Linked DNA regions of Homo sapiens: regions 1 and 3 are each linked to region 2. Evidence: fine-mapped expression QTL. A gene starts in region 2. Each other region holds a variant in brackets. All regions are shown on one strand. Distances are from middle to middle.

Region 1 (7,178 bases), 51 kb after region 2:
ATAGCTGGTTATATGATTATGAATGAAGCCTTCTTTTTAGTTTAGCCTATTACTAACTGCTTGTCTGAAAGTAATGTAAGAATTAGAAGCAAAAGATAATAAACCTTCAAAACTTAAAAAAGAATACATTAATAGGCCGGGCACAGTGGCTCACGCCTGTAATCCCAGCACTTTGGGAGGCTGAAGTGGGCCGGATCACCTGAGCTGAGGAGTTCGAAACTAGCCTTGCCAACATGGTGAAACCCCGTCTCTACTAAAAATACAAAAAAATTAGCCAGGCGTGGTGGCACGGCACCTGTAATCCCAGCTACTCAGGAGGCTGAGGTACAAGAATCACTTGAACCCGGGAGGTGGAGGTTGCAGTGAGCCAAGATTGCGCCATTGCATTCCAGCCTGGAAGACAAAGTGAGACTGTCTCAAGAAAAAAAAAAAAGGAATACCTTAATAAGTGACAGATGATAAGAACTGCAGTGATAACGAAAAGGCGTAGTAAGTCAAAAATTCTATGTGTTTGACACATGAGATCTTTAAAAAGTCAAAACTATATCTGTAACCCATGGTGATCTGAAATTCATTTTACAAAAGTTCATTGTATTTTAATACTGCCAATAGGCAGAAATAATAATAAAACCACAACTTAGAATAGTACGTATTATTTATGTGATACAAACATATTAAAAGATAAACATTTAAAAATCTTATTAAAATTAAAAAAATATTTCTTAGGTCATTTCTCAGCTAAAGCATTTAAATTCCATTTTGTCTTAAAATAAGAATCCCACAAATTGGAAATAAACAATCAACTATTAGCATCAATGGCTCCAATAGATCACTACATTCAATAGAAAAAGATAAGGTGGCCAGGCGCAGTGGCTCACATCTGTAATCCCAGCACTTTGGGAGGCCGAGGTGGGTGATCACCTGCGGTCAGGAGTTCAAGACCAGCCTGGCCAACATGGTGAAACCCCATCTCTACTAAAAGTACAAAAATTTAGCCAGTTGTGGTGGTGGGTCCCTGTAATCCCAGCTACTCAGGTGGCTGAGGCAGGAGAATTGCTTGAACCCAGGAGGCGGAGGTTGCAGTGAGCCGAGATAGCGCTACTGCACTCCAGCCTGGGCAACAAGAGCGAAACTCCATCTCAAAAACTAAAAAATAGAAAAAGAAAAGGCTTCCATATGGTCAAAATAAATGTCAAAATTTATATACAATTACTTATAGGTGAACTCCATCAATAGCGAATGAAGATCTTGAAAATTCACTTAGCGGCACTCTTCAAACCCCCCAACAGGAAGGTTGTAGAAGTCCCACTTTCTTGAAGCTGCCTTATCACTACTGCTGCCTTATCCTTCAGTATGTGTCCAACAATAGCAAAAAATTTGTCATGGTGAAATGGCTTCAGTCATTTAAAAAACAAATCTTAAGGCTGGAAAGAGAAAAGTTGGCCTGGTATGGACAATGAGACTGGGGCACTGCACACCCCAAGCAGCTGGAAGAGCTCTGCAAGGAGGAAGAACAATGTCCTTATAGTTCAAGCTCTATAGTCTATTCGACTTCAAGTTTAATTTTATTCGTACCTTCAATAACAATGTATTTTGAGGTCCACTGTTTCTTAAAAGTTGTAAGCAGACTTTTTCTCCTGATGCTAATAACATGTTCTTTAAAATCAAATTCCTCTGTGTAGAAACGAAGAAGGCCCAACCATAACTGCCCAACAGATTCTGTATTTTTTCCACATTCTGACCAATAGGTAGGCTAGAAATAGAAGGGAACAAGGGATACCATGGTCTTTAGTGAAGTGTTAATATCAATATTCATTTGTATTTTAGGGAGTAAATTTGGATTTATTTCTAATTAACTAGAGCTCAATTATGCAACTTTTCTTTCATATTTAAAAACATAATTTACATAAGTTTATTAATCTCTACTCTGTGACTTGGAGTAGGAAGAGCTCAGAGTTTTCAGTGTCAAGTCTCAGAACATATTAGTCAGAAGATCCAGAAATAGATTCTAAGAGCCTTGGTAATACGTAGGTTATTAGATCTCTTTAGCTCATTGAAAGTCTTTCTAAACTCTGGGTACAAAAACCACAGAACAAATATTCATTCACTTGGAATAAAGTTACTTAACCATTTGGAATTATTAGGCATTAAAGAAATACTGGATATAGGCCCTAGAAATTCACTTGGCTTAGTAAAAATATTTTCACATCAAAGAAAGCATCTGAAAACACTATTTTTTTTACTATCATAAGATATATAAATACAACAAGCAATAAAATAGTTGTTGAACATCTACACTGTAGTATAGCTAATTTTTAGTCAAGGATATAGGAAAATCTTTACTCTTAAAATACGTACCAGTTCATCTATTTGATCAAAAAAATAAATATTCCAGCCATCAACAAATATTTCAGGTTTCTTTTCACCTTTGTATATCTGAAATTAATTTTTAAACTATTAGTATGGATTACAAACTTAATGCATTGATACAAAAACTTCTAGGAAAATAGGTAAAAAATTAACTACAGAACCACAGAATTTTAGAGGAGGAGAAAGGCTCAGAGATCACCAGTTTTCCAGATAAGAAATACAATTTCATTCACTAATACCTCTTGAAGGACAGGAATGACTGGTGGATTCCTCTGCTGGAGAAAATATAGCACCATAAGAGTATATGCATACGATGATAAGCTGCCTCTAGATGCATCACCAATATCACACATCTAGACAGAAGGAAAACCAAGAACAAAGGAAAGGTCTGTTTTCTGCTAACTTTGCATCCATTCTGTTATCACTAAAAGTAAAGTGCATATTTTGAGAACTAATATAAAAATCACATTGTCAAAGGCAAAACCAATCCAACCTAGCAAAGCAGTGGACAGCTGGCTACGTGCAAGATCAGGTCATTGTATAAAATTCAGAACAAAATTTTAGCTTTCTTCATAGGGTCTCCCAAATAGCTACATGAAGCATTTCACATGACTACAGTTCATTAAAAAATAGATTTATGTTTTCAACAGTGTTTAAAGATGCAATGAAATTTCCTGATAAGTCACAATAGGAAGCATACTCACCTTTGTAAATACTTTCATGGTATAGCACAAATACTTCACTCTGGGATCAATGGCGGAATAAGCAGATAAAAGCCTTGTGTTATGAAGGGCCTGTTAAAAGGAAAATAACACTATAAGACTAACAATGAAGTGTAAAGGGTCTCTTTTTTTTTTTTGGTTGTTGTTTTAAATAATGGAGATGGGATCTCACTATGTTGCCCAGGCTGGTCATGAACTCCTGGGCTCAAGTGATCCTCCCCCATCAGCCTCCCAAAGTGCTGGGATTACAAGCATGAGCCACCATGCGAGCCTAGATGAAAAGATTTTAAACTGGAATATTTTAAATAGGTTTACAGTCTGATTCATTTTAGGAAGAAGACATTTCAACTGAAATTAACCTTTTTTTTTTCCCTAAAGACAATCTTCATTAACTTACTAGATAATAATAAAGAATTATAAGTAACATCTGACCTCATGGCTTTTATACGTCCTTGGTCTGAACATCTAGAAAATAAGGGCTGGTGAAATAAACAATCAGTTCCCTTTCAGTAGATATAAGATCTCTCTGCACAAACACCCCTAAAGGGTCAGAGAGGTCCTATAAATCCCTGAAACATATCTGAATTATCTTAGAATCCTCAGCCTCAGAACACTGCCAGGTTCACAGCAAGTAAGCATAATAACTCTTGAAAGATTCACTAAGATGAAATGAATGTGACTTCTTTAACTTGAGGTTTTTGCAAGGTGAGACATTTGTTCCCTTAACCTCTCTAAACAAAAAGCCTGAAAAAAATCTTACCAATGTGTTATACAAACTGATATCTACTTCCAGACCACTTCTCAAATGGAAGAACTTCACAATTGGCACCTTTGCTGTTGTAATAGGTAAGATGTTTCTCAGACCTAAGTTGGGAAATAAAATGTTATCATTAAATACAGCAGCTGGGGATAT[A/G]AGTAACTCTTATGTTAATGTTCCAATATAAAATGGTGTAAACCTAACTTTGGCCTGTTTCATTGCATTCATTAGGACTTGTCAAAGAATTCTGTTATTAACAAACATCTGGGAAGATTAGTCTGGCAAAGTTTACATTTATTAAACATATTGATATTAGAACTACAAGAATCAAACAGTCACTCCCCTCTGGGAACTTACTGGATCGTATGTGCACACGTGTGCATGTGTGTATATGCATGTGTATGTCGTTGTCACTAAGACAAATACCAAACAGAGGAAACTACTATAGAGTCTGAACTATGTGGTTCCCACCTGTTCTCTCCATGTGACTATATCTAATTTGGAGAACAGCCTAAGGGACGATTATCCTCCAAACAAGTTACTCACCTTAAAGCTAGAAGTTATGAAGTTAATAGGAATTAACTTCAATAGGAGAGAGGAAATTGCCTGAGCTAAGCTTTGAAAAAGAGGGAGAAAAACCAGCAAAAATAGTGGCAGTTGAGCAAATTTACCAGGCAAGGCAAACTGTACACAAAAAGTGTAGATGCCTGAAATAGAATGGTACGTTCAGGGAAGTTCCAGAGAATTGCATAGGTTGCCGAATGAACTTGAGGGAATGGAATATGAGGCATAGGAGATGGTGGAGAAACTGGGAAAGGTCCAACTACAGAACATACACATTTTGCTAAGAATTATCCTTAGTCCTCTCCCTCTCCCTCTCCCCTCTTCCCTCTCCCCTCTCCCCACGGTCTCCCTCTCCCTCTCTTTCCACGGTCTCCCTCTGATGCCGGTCTCCCTCTGATGCCGAGCCGAAGCTGGACTGTACCGCTGCCATCTCGGCTCACTGCAACCTCCCTGCCTGATTCTCCTGCCTCAGCCTGCCGAGTGCCTGCGATTGCAGGTGCGCGCCGCCACGCCTGACTGGTTTTCGTATTTTTTTGGTGGAGACGGGGTTTCGCTGTGTTGGCCGGGCTGGTCTCCAGCTCCTAACCACGAGTGATCCGCCAGCCTTGGCCTCCGGAGGTGCCGGGATTGCAGACGGAGTCTCGTTCACTCAGTGCTCAATGGTGCCCAGGCTGGAGTGCAGTGGCGTGATCTCGGCCCGCTACAACCTCCACCTCCCAGCCGCCTGCCTTGGCCTCCCAAAGTGCTGAGATTGCAGCCTCTGCCCGGCCGCCACCCCGTCTGGGAAGTGAGGAGCATCTGTGCCTGGCCGCCCATCGTCTGGGATGTGAGGAGCCCCTCTGCCTGGCTGCCCAGTCTGGAAAGTGAGGAGCGTCTCTGCCCGGCCACCATCCCATCTAGGAAGTGAGGAGCGCCTCTTCCCGGCCGCCATCCCATCTAGGAAGTGAGGAGCGTCTCTGCCCGGCCACCCATCGTCTGAGATGTGGGGAGCGCCTCTGCTCTGCCGCCCCGTCCGGGATGTGAGGAGCGTCTCTGCCCGGCCGCCCCATCTGAGAAGTGAGGAGACCCTCTGCCTGGCAACCGCCCAGTCTGAGAAGTGAGGAGCCCCTCAGCCCAGCAGCCGCCCCGTCTGAGAAGTGAGGAGCCCCTCCGCCCGGCAGCCACCCCGTCTGGGAAGTGAGGAGCGTCTCCACCCGGCAGCCACCCCATCCGGGAGGGAGGTGGGGGGGTCAGTCCCCCGCCCGGCCAGCTGCCCCGTCTGGGAGGTGAGGGGCGCCTCTGCCCGGCCGCCCCTACTGGGAAGTGAGGAGCCCCTCTGCCCGGCCACCATCCCATCTGGGAGGTGTACCCAACAGCTCATTGAGAACAGGCCATGATGACAATGGCGGTTTTGTGGAATAGAAAGCGGGGAAAGGTGGGGAAAAGATTGAGAAATCGGATGGTTGCCGTGTCTGTGTAGAAAGAGGTAGACATGGGAGACTTTTCATTTTGTTCTGTACTAAGAAAAATTCTTCTGCCTTGGGATCCTGTTGATCTGTGACCTTACCCCCAACCCTGTGCTCTCTGAAACCTGCTGTATCCACTCAGGGTTGAATGGATTAAGGGCGGTGCAAGATGTGCTTTGTTAAACAGATGCTTGAAGGCAGCATGCTCGTTAAGAGTCATCACCACTCCCTAATCTCAAGTACCCAGGGACACAAACACTGCAGAAGGCCGCAGGGTCCTCTGCCTAGGAAAACCAGAGACCTTTGTTCACTTGTTTATCTGCTGACCAGATAAACAAGTTTATTATGCTGCTCCACTATTGTCCTGTGACCCTGCCAAATCCCCCTCTGCGAGAAACACCCAAGAATGATCAATAATAAATAAATAAATAAATAAATAAATAAATAAATAAATAAAAAGAATTATCCTTAGAATCAAAGAGGAGCCAATGAACTGGTCTAAGTTGGGAGGAATCACTGACCACATCTAGTTAGACAATAACCCTGGCAGTGGACAGACTGGAGGCACCAGGAACAGAGGCAGGGTGACCACTTATGAAAAACAACTGGGTGTGAACTTTCATGGTGGCATGGGAATACACAGAAGAAGCAAGGCATGTTTGAGAGCATCTGTAACTGGATGGGAAGCTAGGGGTAGTAAGAGAGGATCAGGGCTTTCAGAGTAAGAGTTACCACTTCCTGAGCACCTAATGTGTGATAGGGATATGTGAAGAGTCCTTTACAAACATTACCTCCTTAGGTTTATCACCCTCATCTTACAGATGAGGAAACAGAGACCCAGAAAGATTCACTAGCTTAGGAATATGCAGCTGGTAAATTGTGGAGCCGGAATTCAAATCTAGGTAAGATTGACTCCCAACTTATACTGAACCTAGTGTGGGTCAGGCTAATTATCATTTCACCCGTTTTATTGATTCCAAGGATGCCAATATCAACAACCATGAAAAAGGATTCACAAGGAAGGGCAGATTAATGGAGTTGGTTCCTGCAGAAGGGAAGCGGTAAAGTGAAAGATAAGCTCATTCTGAGATGTCAGAGTTTGAGTTTCTTCTGAGAGAGCTAAGTGGTGGTTCCTAAAAAGCAGATACATAGTGATCACATCATAGAACACAGGAGAAAATAAGTAGGTAGAAGACATTTCAGGAAAAAATCTGTGTGGCAGACAGAGGAAATGAAACTTAATCTGATGGGGAAAGGGGGCAAGGAAGCTCACTTTACTGAATACTTAGAATATGCTAGGCTTTGCACTTTACGTATTAT
Region 2 (6,999 bases):
TGAGAGTTTGACACCTTTGAAGGTGGGAAACATTTACCATGTATTCTTTCTGAAGGCTGCTACCTGTGAGGTTTCATCTACATAGCAAGACCACCTTTGCTAGCCAGGCCTCCTCTTCTCTCCCTGCCATAACCTGTCATGCACCATAACCTGATTTACCACCATAACTTGTTTTGGGCCATTCTCTGAGCTCCCATTCTCTTCGTAACCTCAAGATGGTATGTAAGCTTCTGTAACCCACTGGGCGTTTGGAGCAATCATTCTGTGGTTCTTTCCTATGTGCACATAAATAAATTCGTATGCCTTTTCTCCAGTGAATCTGCCTTTTGCGAGTTATTTTTTTCAGCAAACCTTCAGAGGGCAAAAAGGACATTTTTCCCTTGGCTCCTACAGGGGTGTTGTTTTCTGAGCCATAATAAGCTCATCTGGCCAGGTCTTATATTTTGCTCAGGGGACTTGGGGAAGGAGAACTTTGATTTAATCTAACACGTTTTTCAGATGTTCATTGTGGCACTTCTTACCCACTTTCACTTATCAGCTGCCTCTGTAAGATCATCACACCTGCAGCTTTGCTTGACGCAGTGAGTCCTGGTTGTGATTCTACAGCATTCTGGAATCATGAGCACAATGTGCATTCACAGATGATTCTGATGCGTGAAATATCCACTACTGTCTTCTCACTTCTTACTTTCACTCTTCAGCTGCTTATGTAAGATCATCATACCTGCAGATTTGCTTGACTCAGTGAGTCCTGGTTGCCATCCTACATCATTCTGGAATCGTGAGCACTATGTGCGTTCACAGATGATTCTGATGTGTGGAATATCCACTACTGTCTCCATCATTATTTTAGGTTTCAATGAATACCTTCGAGCCACTGATTCAATCTAATATAACCCAATAGCAATGATAAAGATTGCAGACTTACTAAACAGAAATAAGCAAATGTTGTGAAAAATATATTAACCAGAATGAACTGTATCCTGCTAATTGAATGTTATTTAAGAACATTTGATTAATGTCATCTTCGTGGAAAATGCTCAACATTTAAATACGCAGGAGCTATTAGGAACAAAATGAGATTTCTGGGAAATCATTACTATGTTATTTTCAATTTATGAAGTGTGACTACAACTGTTTCATTTGGGAAAGGAAAGTAGCTCAGAGCAGTCGGAAGAATCTGAGGAATGCAAAATTTATCAGAGAGACAGGAGAGTCTCATTAACCCTATGCCCAGGGTTAATTGTTTAAAGGCATTTTGTATTTTTCTTCTATTGCCTATAGTTTCCAGACCAGCTGATAAATTACCTAAAATGCTATGAGTTGCACAATGTGACCCTCACCCATATCTTCATTTTTCTGGAATTTGTGATACAAAGAACAGCGCATAGCCAGTCAATAGCTTATACTATTTTGAGTGAGTCACTGTGGCATGCACCTGTAATCCCAGCTACACGGGAGGCTGAGGTGAGAGATCACTTGAGTACAGGAGTTCAAGACCAGCCTGGGCAACACAGGGGGAAACCTTGTCTCAACAAGAAGAAGAAGAAAAAAAGAAGCTTACGGTATTTTAATGAACCAATGTAAATACTTGGTAAACAACTTTAGAACTACCTCTTCTTTTTTCCCTTTAAAAACCCACTTATAATTGCCGATTGGAGCATATATTCTGGGCAACTTGAATCAATGTCCCCAGGGTTGCAGTCCTCAAACTTGGCTCAAATAAGCTCTCTACTTATATTAATTTTGCCTTGGCTTCTTCCTTTAGGCCAACAGATTGCCTTTTCTTCTGAAACCCCAAAGCACCTGTGGCTCACTGCAGCGATTACTGGGTTCCATGCTTTGGGAATGCTAGTCTAAGTGAGAAGACTCCTTGGGGAGGAGATGGGAGCCCATAGGAACCTGAAGATTCCCCTGCAGAACAGCAGGCCTTTTAAGCTCCTCCCTCCTGGCTTTCACTTGTAATCAGTTGGAGGCTCCATCAAGCCAAACAAGACATCTGCCCCTTTTTCAGTTCTCTCAGCTGTCACTTTTCATCTAGACTTCATTAGCTCCTGCCTGGTCTTTCCCCAAAATGCCTAATGGACTTTCCTGGCTGATTTCCTTGATCCCTTACCCTTGAGTCTGGCTGTCTTCCCAGGGGAGCCGCTTGTCTGACATGGCAGCTGGCACAGAGTAGGCACTCAGTAATTTTAGGCCTTCTGCTTTAGTTGTCAGAGGGTGAATTGACAACACGATTGATTGACAGGGAATGCAATTTACTACTGCTGATATAACAACCAGAACTGAAAATATGACAATCAGACTTAGCTCCTCAGAGAGGGGAAAAGTCTGTGGTCTTGGCCAGGAACAGATCAGTTGAGTGGATTTATATACCAACACAATGGATGACAAAGGTGACAGTGTCCTGTCACGATGGCTTCAGGGAATGAGCGGTGTGGGCAGCTCAAACAACCCATCTGGGGCTAACGTGGAGGGGGAGAGAGCTCATCAATCTTGAGCAGATATTAGATGCGGAGGCCAGATTGCTTTCTTGTGTGGGTTTTATAGCTGTGCACATTCAACTATTAAGGACAACCTTTATTACTAAAATTTTTGTAGGACGGGTGCGGTGGCTCACGCCCATAATCCCAGCACTTTGGGAGACCAAGGGGAGCAGATCACGGGGTCAGGAGATCAAGACCATCCTGGCTAACACGGTGAAACCCTGTCTCTACTAACAATACAAAAATTAGCTGGGCATGGTGGTGGGCGCCGGTAGTCCCAGCTACTCGGGAGGCTGAGGCAGGAGAATCACTTGAACCCAGGAGGCGGAGGTTGCAGTGAGCCGAGATCGTGCCATTGCACTCCAGCCTGGGCGACAGAGTGAGACTTTGTCTCAAAAAAAAAAAAAAAAAAAGGAAAAATTAATTTTGTCATAGAGGATGAAACTCTTAATCCTTCCTTTGAAGTAATTACTTTTAGAGAGCTTGTTTGGAGGTTCTAGCAGGGGAGTGCAGCTACTCATATACCCTTGCCCAAAGAACGGCCCTCCTCTGTTGGGGAAGGTTGTCCGCAGCGTCTGGAAGGACGCATGTGGACGGATGAGGGAGGAAGGAGACATCCACCTAGCCAGCCAGATCAGACAAATTAACCCTGGCCATCAGTGGGGTGACAGATGTTGCAGCCAGATCACCCTCACATCCGGAAATAATTGCTTTTAAAACGCAATATTTGAAAACCTGAATTTTCTTGGGTAAGCAACTATTATATTGCTAATTTAACGAAACTTTTTTTAAAAATATTAATATACTTAAATTTTAGAGCAATTTTAGAATTGGTTAGAAAGTACAATGTTCCCACAACCCCCCTTCTCTGCACCATACACACAGCTTTCCCCTTTTTTTTTTACTACTTATGTTTGTGTGGTACGTTTGTTATACTTGATGAGCCGGTATCAATGCATGGTTACTAACTAAAGCCCATACTTCACAGTTTACATTACGGTCCATTCTTGGTGTTGTGCATTCTATGAGATTTCACAATGTGCAATTACATATATCCACTTTGATAGTATCATACAGAGCAGTGTTTTTTTTTTTTCTTTGAGATAGGCTCTCATTCTGTCACCCCAGCTGGAGTGCAGTGGCGTGAACACAGGTCACTGCAGCCTCAACCTCCCAGGCTCAGGTGATCCTCCCATCAGCCTCCCAAGTGGCAGAGGAAAAACAAAGGACACTGGGTGTGAGGGAGAGGTGCAAAGTCAGGACCAAGCATCCATGGGAACACAGGGGAGGATGAAGGCACTGAGGTTGGGGAGAGAGAGCAGAGCTATCAGTGTTGAAGGCCGGAAAGGATGAGGGAGTCTGCAGGCTCGGCCCGATCAACTGGTTCCAGCTTCTGTGACCTGCCTGGAGGAAGATGAAACAGGCTCCTCATCCTTATTGGTAAAGATAAACCCAAATCCCATCTCACCTCCCAGCTCTGGTCTTCCCACCTTAGCCACTGCCCACCTCACTCCATCTCTCCTTGCCAAGCCTAGACTGGCTTAGTTTTCACTGCTCTGTGGTCTCACAGTGCCCCGTGGCTATGGCTGTAGATGCACTTACCACTTGTTTTACAGTTGTCTCTTCACGTGGTCATATCTGTCTTGAGTCTCTGCACTCCCAGGGCAGAGGCTGGGTCTCATTCATCCAGCAGCCCCAAGGCCCAGCCCCACTCCTAGCATGTGTCATTGCTTAGTGTTAAGTGACTGTCCATTGTGACATGTGGACATTCTCAAGGTCACATAAGCAGCTATATGATGCTAAGCGATGGGGAATTATCTTGCTGCTTGGTGGGGGGTGGGAGACGGTGGAGGATGATGGAAAAGCATTTTTAAAGAGTGAACATTGAGTAGCTGAGTAGCTACTTTTTTTTCTGCCTCAGCTTGTGGCTGGGACCCCGGGCGCACGCCACCACGCCTGGCTAATTTATGTATTTTTCTCTAGAGATGGGGTTTCGCCATGTTGCCCAGGCTGGCGTGAGTATAATTTTTTTTTTTTTTTGAGATGGAGTCTCACTCTGTCGCCCAGGCTGGAGTGCAGTGGCACGATCTCAGCTCACTGCAAGCTCCGCCTCCCGGGTTCACGCCATTCTCCTGCCTCAGCCTCTTGAGTAGCTGGGACTACAGGTGCCGTGAATGTAATTTTTAATCAGTCAAGTTTTTCCTTCTATAGACATGGGCAAAGTGCAAATAAGAAATTGAGAGAGATAATAGAAGGTACAGCTATGCTCTTTGCACCTGGCCAGATATGGGTAGAAGTGGACCAGGGGCTACCTGGCTGTGCAAATTCTCTCCATGAGCCATGCAGCCGTGCTCCAGACTCCATTCCCCACCCATGGGAGGTCCCTGTGGCAATCACTGAAAATTTTCCTGAAACAGCCATTTCCCCAGAATGCAATCTACTGGGCATTTAAATAGTCTGATTGAGTTAATAACTTGTGAACACCGTGGCAACATATCCATAACATGAAGCTTACCGTGTTAAGCCGTTTTAGGTACACAGTTCTGTGGCATTCAGTACATTCACATTGTTGTGCCACCTGCACTGCCTTCCATCTCCAGAGCTTTTTCATCTTTTCCACCTGAATCTGTGTCCATGAAATAAATTTCTCACCCCCTGTCCCCTGTCAATGGACACCTGGGTTGTTCCTACCTTTTGGCTATTGTGAATAATGCTGTTATGAACATGGATATACAAGAAAGTTAATAATTTTAAGCAGAATTTAATAAATACAGAAGATTCTTCCAATGAGAAAATATTTCAAAAGCCTGCCATTCAAAGGTGTTCTGCAGAGCAACAGCACTGGCTTCACTTGGGCCTTTGCTACTAATGCAGAATCTCAGGCTCTGCCCTGGACCTTTGTTACAGAATCTGCTTTTTTTTTTTTTTTGAGACAGTTTTGCTCTGTCACCCAGGCTGGAATGCAGTGGTGCCATCTCATGTCACTGCAACCTCCCCACCTCCCAGGTTCAAGTGATTCTCCTGCCTCAGCCTCCTGAGTAGCTGGGACTAGAGGCGCCCACCACTATGTCTGGCTAATTTTTGTGTATTTTTAGTAGAGATGGGGTTTCACCATGTTGGCCAGGCTGGTCTCGAACTCCTGACCTCAAGTGATCCACTCGCCTCAGCCTCCCAAAGTGCTGGATTACAGGCGTGAGCTACCTACTGCGCCCGGCCAAGAATCTGCTTTTTAACAAGACCCCCAGGTGACTTATTTGCACCTTAAAGTTTGAGGACTGCTTCAAGACATAGAATCCATGGAGAACAAAAAATGAGTACTTTATTTTTTATTCTTTTTTTTTTTGAGACAGGGTCTTGCTCTGTCATCCAGGCTGGAGTGCAGTAGTACGATCTTGGCTCACTGCAACCTCTACCTCCTGGGCTAAAGTGATCCTCTCACCTTGGTCTCCTGAGCAACGGGGACTACAGGCATGTACCACCATGACCAGCTAATTTTTGTATTTTTTGTAGAGACGGCGTTTTACCACGTTGCCCAGGCTGGTCTTGAACTCCTGGGATCAGGTGATCTGCCCACTTTTGCCTCCCAAAGTGCTGGGATTACAGGCTTGAGCCAACACACCTGGCCCAATAAATGGGCACTTCATCATGAAAAGTTTCGGAATCACTAGCTAGTGGAAGTAAAAGCAGTAACCCATCAAGGCCCTCAAAGTAGGCTAGTTTTAAGCTGAGTACCGCTGGTACAGAGCCCTTGCCCCGCTAAAGGTTGGTGTGAAATGAAGCCTTCCCTGAACACTGCACAGCAGCAAGGGAGGATGGGAGTCCACAGTGATGTAACCACCACATGGCTCTGTATTTCAATAGAGGCTGAGGCTAGGGTGCACCTCCCTCTCTCCTCCATCTCTTGTCTGATGAGACCCACCTGGGACCAGGAGATTGAGTTCCTACTGGGGAATGAGCTTTCAAAACAGCTCCTCAATTAAGGCAGGTTTGTCTATAGTTAATCAGCTACTAAGAGAATGAAATTTCTCCGAATGTTTATATTTGAAATTTATGGTTCTTTTCAAAGAAGTTACTGTGGTCTTTTATTTGAAGGAAATACAGCAAATTTCCCCCAGATTTGAATATGGGACAATAACTCCCTAAATGTGTTGAAACTCTTTCCCTAAGCTCTTGCTTTGATTGATAATCCATTAACATATTATCCCTTTTTGCACAAGAAAATGGCTAAAAGGGACAAGAATTACAACGTATGAAACGTCTACCCTTAGCAGGATGCCATTTATGTGTAGTTAGCTCATCACATCCCCCCAAATTCTGAGACTGTTTTACAGAAGGTTACATGGCTACAAAATGACAGGAACCATGATTCAAATCCAGGCATATCTCACCCCAAACCTACACCTTTCCAGGCCAGCCTCCCAGCCTGCACTGAGCTCAGGTGAGCTGTATTTGGGTTTATTCTGGGTCGATGCTGTGTCTGGCCCATGCCACGTCTGCTCTAAGGCTCAAATGA
Region 3 (7,178 bases), 60 kb after region 2:
TTTAGGGGAAAGGACATAATGTCTATAGCTTAATCTCAAATGGTACAGGAAGAAATTGAGAGCAAGCAAAAGATGGAATGATGAATCAAATATGGAAAATGTTAATTGGTGGATCTGAATAAAAGTTATATGTGGAACTCTTTATGCAACTTTTGCTGCTTTCCTTTAAATGTGAAATTAAATTATTTCAAAACACAAAGTTAAAATCTAGCTCAGTACTAAAAAATTAATAGTCACGCTAACTTAGTACTTCAGTTTCTTTGCACGACCTTCAAAACAAAACAAAACAAAACAAAACACATGATCTTTAGAGGTGGAATTCCCAAGTTAAGGGAAATGTTTACTTCAATGACCAAAGAAAAGTATATCAATGCACTTTTTTTCTTTTTTTTTTATATTGTTCTGCCCTCTGTGAACAAATCAATGTACATTTAAAAAAACAAAGCCTAACCCAATTTCTGTATACTTTAGGTTAATTTTTATTGGGAATAAACCAAAATTAAGATTTTTTTTCCTCCTGTTATTTAAACAACATGGTATGTACTTTATTAACTCCTGGGGAAAAAATTTCAAAGAAAAGTGGCACCCAAGGTGTATATATGTGTGTGTCTAGGTGTGTGTGCACGTTCATGCTGTGACTTAAAGTCTGTTCCTAACCGAAATGTACAAAAACTTTTCATGGACAGACCATGGATTTTAAGTTCCTGAGGATAGGGGCCATATATTGTTCACTTTCATTTTCAGCTCTTAGCACAGAAGTTTGCTGAACTACATTTTAAAAGAAGATTTTTCACTGTTAATGGTATCCATAGCTGCCATGACAACAAAAGGATACGTTAACAGCATTTCAATTCTGTGCATGGTTTACAAAATCTATACATTTTATAGCTGTAAATACTCTAGAATAATTATCCAGTCCAGTTGCCTCAATTTATCAATGAAAAAAAGAGATCAGGCCAAGCGTAGTGGCTCACACCTGTAATCCCAGTGCTTTGGGAGGCCAAGGCACTTGAGCCCAGGAGTTCAGAGACTAGCCTGGACAACCTAGCAAGATCCCATTTCTTAAAAAAAGAGATCGCTTCAAGTGAAGGACTTGTTCAGGGTCATATACAGCTTGTTGAGCAGAACAGCTGCAAATTCAACCCACAAGCCCAGTCCGGGGTGCTTTCCTTGACACTTCACACAATTAGCAACTCCTACACTTTGACTTATACAACGCCAACAAAGGAAAAGGATTTATAGCCTTTCTTGCCTGTCTGGCGTAGGCTTTGTCTTGAAATAAAACTGAGCTAGGCAACAATATGCATATAAATTATCACCAATTCCTCAGTCTTTCATACTTACGCATACAAGATTTTAAAAAGACATTAATATTGCAATTATTCTATGAATGAGCCACTATACTGCTTCATGGCATTAATAAACTCTAAATACAATTGGCCTTTCATGTCTGTGGGTCCTGCATCCCCATATCCAATCAAACACAAACCAAAAATATTTAAGAGAAAAAAGCAACTAATAAAAAACTAACGATACAACAATAAAAAAATACAAATAAAAAATACAGTATAACAACTATTTACATAGTATTTACACTGTATTAGGTATTATAAGTAACCTAGAGATGACTAAAACTATATGGAAGGATGCATATAGGTTATATGTAAATACTATGCCATTTTATATAAGGAACTTGAGCATCTAAGGATTTTTTTTATCTGCTGGGGAAGGGAGGGTTGAGGGGTGATGGGTGGGCCTGGAACAAATACCCCATGGATACCAAGGGAAGACTATAGAAAACACTAATTAAAAAGTCAGAAATATTTTTAGAAAAAGTTTACAGAGGTACCTGAATGTTTTCTGAGGACTCTTGCTAATTCTTCAATAGTTCTGACACAGTCCAATCCCTACAACAAAGAAGGCATAAAGAACTTAACCAAAACTGGAAGACAGGTTCTGAAACTGGCTATAGTTTCCATTACCTTCAGAAATAATGTAATTAATTTCAAGTCAGTCTATATCTATTTTTTTCCTTTCTAGTTGGGTATTAGAGTCAGTATTCACAGGAAATATCCTGACGGTACAAAAACCACTAAATACCCTACTTCCTAATTGTTTTTGGGTGTGCAACAAAGGCTAAAATCAGTCAGGAAGCTTATGGACCTAGGGCTTCCAAAAAAGTCTCTGAACCATGGTTGAGGACCTTCATTTCTTCCCCTCCACATAATATCACTCGGATGTACCCCATGTCCCAGAATAAATGAGAGGAGGCTTCTGTGCCCCAGCTCATTCATTCTAAGCAGACCTTCTATAGTTTAAGAGTTGATGAATTGCTGTGGAGAGTGATTAAGCTCAAATTATTTCCCTATAGGACTAGCCAGAATTATAATGCATATAACTAAAGTCATACAGCAAATATAAATAGTATTTGATAAATCATTCTTAAAAACATTTGGGCTGACTCAACATACGCCTTTTTGATGGTTATAAAAATCCCAGAACATACGTGGAATGTTACTTTAGAAATGCCCTCAAAACTAGTTTATAAGCCATGTAAAAAAATAAATAAATAAATAAACCTTGAGGATGTATGATAGGGTCATTCCATATGTTGAGCCAATCTTGCTTATATACTTTATTCAAATTCAGGCTAGATCACTTTTGACTATTTTCCCAAATCAGATACATCCTCAAAATAGAAAGACTTGAAACTAAGAAAAGGTACAAAAAGGTCTTCAGCAACAGCAGCATCATTCATTTGGATATTTAGCATTTGGACTGCTGTTAAGGATTTAAAAGAATAGGGACTCAGCACTTCCTAGACTTTATACCTTTATATAGTGTTTTATATTTTATAAATGCCTTCAGATATCCCAGGGGCTGGCAAGTTTGTTTTGCTTTGCACGCCATATGGTCTCTTACAACTACTAAACTCTGTACTTAAGAGTGAAGGCAGCCATAGACATTACATATGTGAATGGGTGTGATTCTGTCCCAATAAAACTTTATTTACAAAAACAGGCAGTGGGGGGCTGAATTGCCCAAGGGCCATCGTTTGCTAACTCCTGACCCACATGATCCATGATAATGTGTACAAAAATCAGCGGAGGCAGGAGGAACAGATATTATACTTTATCGATTATTTACCAAAGACCACATGTTTAGGTACTGATGAAACAAGTTTGTCTCAAATCCAGGCCTCTGGACTCTAAGGTTAGTACTCTTATGATTTACCACACTGCCTGTCTGGTAACAAACTTTACAGGTAACCTTATGTGAGTGTGTGATCCAAGTCAGCATAGTAGCCAAGCCAATGGGACACTGAAGAGGCTGGTTTGGCTATGTAGAATTCCCAGGCAACACTTTCCAATCCACTTTTTGCTACAG[A/G]GTGAAAGTATAACCTTTCTGCTCCTCACATTCCTCACAACCTTTCCAAGCCTCTTAATGTATTTGGCCAGAGACTGTGCCAAACAGCACACTCTATATGGTATGCCCTGATAAATTTGGAAAATACCAAGCTGTAATGCCAGTCTAGATTGGTTAAATCACACTGCCACAGCAAATGGAAGTTTTATGTGGTCACTGTACCTCAGCAGTTTCAAGTCCATTAATTGTCATACAGACGTCAAGGTCACTCTGTTTGAACCCAAATCCATTTTTGGAGGAGCCAAACAGGCTCAATTTAGTTCCTGTTAGGGATATATGAAAAGTAATAACTAATTACCTGAGTACATTTAATTTTTGATCAAAATGGCCCTCTCATGAATCAAAAACACCCAGTTGTTTAATTATCCTATATTAATCTCATACTTATGTTCTCTGATTAACTGGTCATTTATGCTAAAGTCTTTTTCTCTCAAAGCTTCCTTTACATACAAGCTGTATATGGCAAGAAAGATTACCAGGTGCTCCTTTATTCTTAAATGCAAAGACATTTCAAGGAAAATGTTAGATCACCTCAACACATTTAATAATGTAAGCTTAACTTTGACTCTAAACATAGTATTAAATGAAATTCACTTATGGCACTTGCTAGAATAAACCCTACACTGTTTCTGTTGGTAAATGAGGATTTGGCAGACCAAGGACCATCCTGGGTATATTGCAAAACAATGGAAATCCTGATTCTCAAAATCAGTGTGCTTGTAACACATGAACTGATTTGGAAAAAAGGTTACACTACTTTTCTTAAAAATAAAAAATAAATCATTTACCTGGAAAGTCCTGTCTTATGAAACTTTCTAGGTTTTGCCGAATATGTTCACGAGCCTGATCTTCTATAATTGTTGGAGAAAAATCCTCTGTTTAAAAATAAATAGACATATTGACAAAATAAGCCGGTTGACACTCTTAGAAAAAGCTGAAAAAAATTTATTTTTTAGAAAATAAAACTTACAAGCTTAAATTTAAAAATTCCTAAATCATTGTGTCTTCTCAGTAGATAGCATTAACAAGGTAAAGTTTGTTTTTTATTTATTTTTGAGATAAGGTCTGGTTCTGTCGGCCAGGCTGCAGTGCAGTAGTGTGATCTTAGCTTACTGCAACCTCTGCCTCCCAGGCTCAAGCCATCTTCCCACCTCAGCCTCCCGAGTAGCTGGGACTATAGGCATGTACCACCATGCCTGGCTAATTTTTGTAACAGTAATGTAAAATTTAAGATGTCCTTTTTTAAAGAATCTAAGAAGTGCTCTTGAAACGGAAAGTAATTTAAACATGGGATCTCCACCTGGGTTTCCTGAAAGACACCAGGGTTACAGAAAGGGCCTTCAGAAATCACCACCCCGCTAAAGTGTGAATTTAAAAGTTTGTGAGCATTTGCATGTATTTTTTTCCCTAAGGAGAACCTAGTTTTTTTAATAGCTCATAATATAAAAAAAAAAAATTTCCCAAAAAAAAAAAAAAAAGGACTTGTTAAGAACACGTGTCTTCTGACACGGATGAACACCTTATGATGAAGCCATGTGAAACAAGTTCCTTCATTTTAAGCAGCTGAACATCTATCCTTTAAATATTTTCTTTTGTAAAACTTTAAGGCTCTCTACACCAATGCTTCCCCAAATTTGTGTTCCTTAAAGGGCTGTTAAGTAGGCTATTAATTAGCGTTACTCAAAAATTATTCTATGTTCAAATTTTAGAAATAATATTTCTCAGATACCTTCAATATGCTAATATGTCCTGGAAATAACCCAGGAATTCTAAGAGAGAAGGGAGTGTGTAGTGTTATTCCCTCGCTGGCCTAGGTATACTTCTGGTGATGAAATATTATTAACTGCCATCTAGAAAAACATTTCAAAGAATGCCAGCTGGGAAATGCTACTACTCTAATTTTAAGACTTAATAAAAGATCCTCAGCAAGGCAACTTTCGGCCCCTCACAGAGACAGTACTTTGAAATTCATATTGAGATTTTACCCTCTCTTCCAACGATTTTGGGAAAATTATGAACTGAGACTCTTCAGAAAATATCTTTCTTCTGGAAAAAAATGTCGCTCCCTTACCCTCATCCTTACTTTGTATCCTGGCTTATAACAGGCCATGCATTTTTGTAGCAAACTTTTCAAAAACAATTATATAACCTGGTCCCTTCTTTCTGGGGCCTGGATCTGCTTACACAGCAGGAAGAATAACACCACCAACCTTTACATAGCCCAGCTAGCCAGGGAAGTGTGTCCAGGCTTCAAGTAACTTGAATTTTAATTTTTGGCCGGGAGCGGTGGCTCACGCCTGTAATCCCAGCACTTTGGGAGGTCAAGGCGAGCGGATCACTGGAGGTCAGGAGTTTGAGACTTGCCTGGCCAATATGGTGAAACCCCATCTCTACTAAAAAAAAAAAAAAAAATTAGCTGGACATGGTGGTGCATGACTGTAATTCCAGCTACTCAGGAGGCTGAGGCAGGAGAATTGCTTGAACCCAGGAGGTGGAGGTTGCAGTGAGCTGAGATCGCACCACTGCACTCCAGCCTGGGTGACAGAGCTAGACTTTGTCTCAAAAAAAAAAAAATTTTTTTTCTTGGCAGAGTAATGGAAAATTTAAATGGGGAAAGATATTTAATACTAAGCTTTAAAAAGAAACCTGCTGGCCAGGCGCCATGGCTCAAGCCTGTAATCCCAGCTCTTTCGGAGACTCAGTTGGATGAATCACTTGAGGTCAGGAGTTTGAGACCAGCCTGGCCAACGTGGTGAAACCCTGTATCTACAAAAAATATAAGAATGAGCTGGGTGTGGTGATGCATGCCTGTAATACCAGCTACTTGGGTGGTTGAGGCAGAAGAATTGCTTGAGTCCAGGAGTTAGAGGCTGTGGAGAGCTGATATTGCGCCACTGCATTCCAGCCTGGGGGACCGAGCAAGACCCTGTCTCACCATCACCCTCCAAAAAAGGAAACCTGCTATGATTGCTATGTATCTTGATGCAACAACTATGCTGTTAATAAAAGGAAGTACAGAAGGCACTTGATATTAAAAGAAAAATAAAAGATCCTCCATTTGCCTGAGCCCAGGAGTTCAAGACTAGCTTGGGTAACACAGGGAAACTGTGTCTCTACAAATAATGAAAAATTTAGTCAGGCATAGTGGCATGCATCTGTGCTCCCAGCTACTTGGGAGGCTGAGGTGAGAGGATTGCTTTAGTCTGGGAGGTCGAGGCTGCAGTGACTCATGATTGCTCTGCTACACTCCAGTCTGGGTGACAGAATGAGATCCTGTCTCAAAATTTAAAAAAAAATTTTTTTTTAAATAAAAAAGATCCTCCCTGCATCTCTCCTCATCCTTCTTTGACATTTATTGCATGTCCCAAACAGAACAGACATGACATGGAACGCTTGAGGATACAATGGAGAATGGAATAGACTTGGTCCCTAATAATGTTTAGAGACCTAAATAGGATAGTGATTCTAAAGACTCGAGTAAATGTCAATTTAATATTTTGACAAATCAAAAGAAATGTGAATAACTTACTATAACACTGGATACAGACTTGATCTAAGATATTTAAAAACTTGGGTGTTAATGGTGGCAGAGGTTCTAGCTGGATTCTTTTGAAGTCTTCAGGACAGTCCTTCTTTAGATGACCCTCTCGTTTGCATAAGCTGCACACTACCGTAGGAGACTGCAGGAATATGGCAAAGCAAAACAAGACTTAACACTTTATTTGCCAAATAAAGGAGTCTGGAATCATGTT

Which allele goes with the higher level. Alleles are on the strand shown, and positions count from the first base shown. SD is a standard deviation of normalised expression in the study named. Not every link is listed here.
For the expression in prefrontal cortex of the gene that starts at base 4,196 in region 2, allele G in region 1 goes with a higher level than allele A (moderate effect, 0.47 SD a copy in ROSMAP).

What was found. PIP is the estimated chance that this variant, and not a neighbour inherited with it, causes the effect. A credible set is the group of variants that fine-mapping cannot tell apart.
Region 1: its variant is the best candidate, but not a certain one, in a credible set for the expression of C9orf153 in prefrontal cortex (ROSMAP, PIP 0.78).
Region 3: its variant is the best candidate, but not a certain one, in a credible set for the expression of C9orf153 in whole blood (INTERVAL, PIP 0.87).

Annotation. Positions count from the first base shown.
Region 1 is chr9:86,306,854-86,314,031 of GRCh38, forward strand. TUT7 (terminal uridylyl transferase 7) reads right to left here. Exons shown (of 27, transcript NM_024617.4): 18 at 3,853-3,956; 19 at 3,075-3,164; 20 at 2,610-2,723; 21 at 2,359-2,436; 22 at 1,576-1,753. Among named protein-coding and RNA genes, the nearest start is that of ISCA1, 28 kb to the left of the region's middle. RefSeq lists an enhancer at 5,487-6,324. The variant A/G (reference allele first, on the strand shown) is at 4,006.
Region 2 is chr9:86,255,462-86,262,460 of GRCh38, forward strand. C9orf153 (chromosome 9 open reading frame 153) reads right to left here and starts at 4,196. Exons shown (of 4, transcript NM_001276366.4): 1 at 4,089-4,196. It also overlaps the pseudogene RN7SKP264.
Region 3 is chr9:86,315,370-86,322,547 of GRCh38, forward strand. TUT7 (terminal uridylyl transferase 7) reads right to left here. Exons shown (of 27, transcript NM_024617.4): 14 at 6,956-7,106; 15 at 4,215-4,301; 16 at 3,589-3,689; 17 at 1,850-1,907. Among named protein-coding and RNA genes, the nearest start is that of TUT7, 35 kb to the right of the region's middle. The variant A/G (reference allele first, on the strand shown) is at 3,388.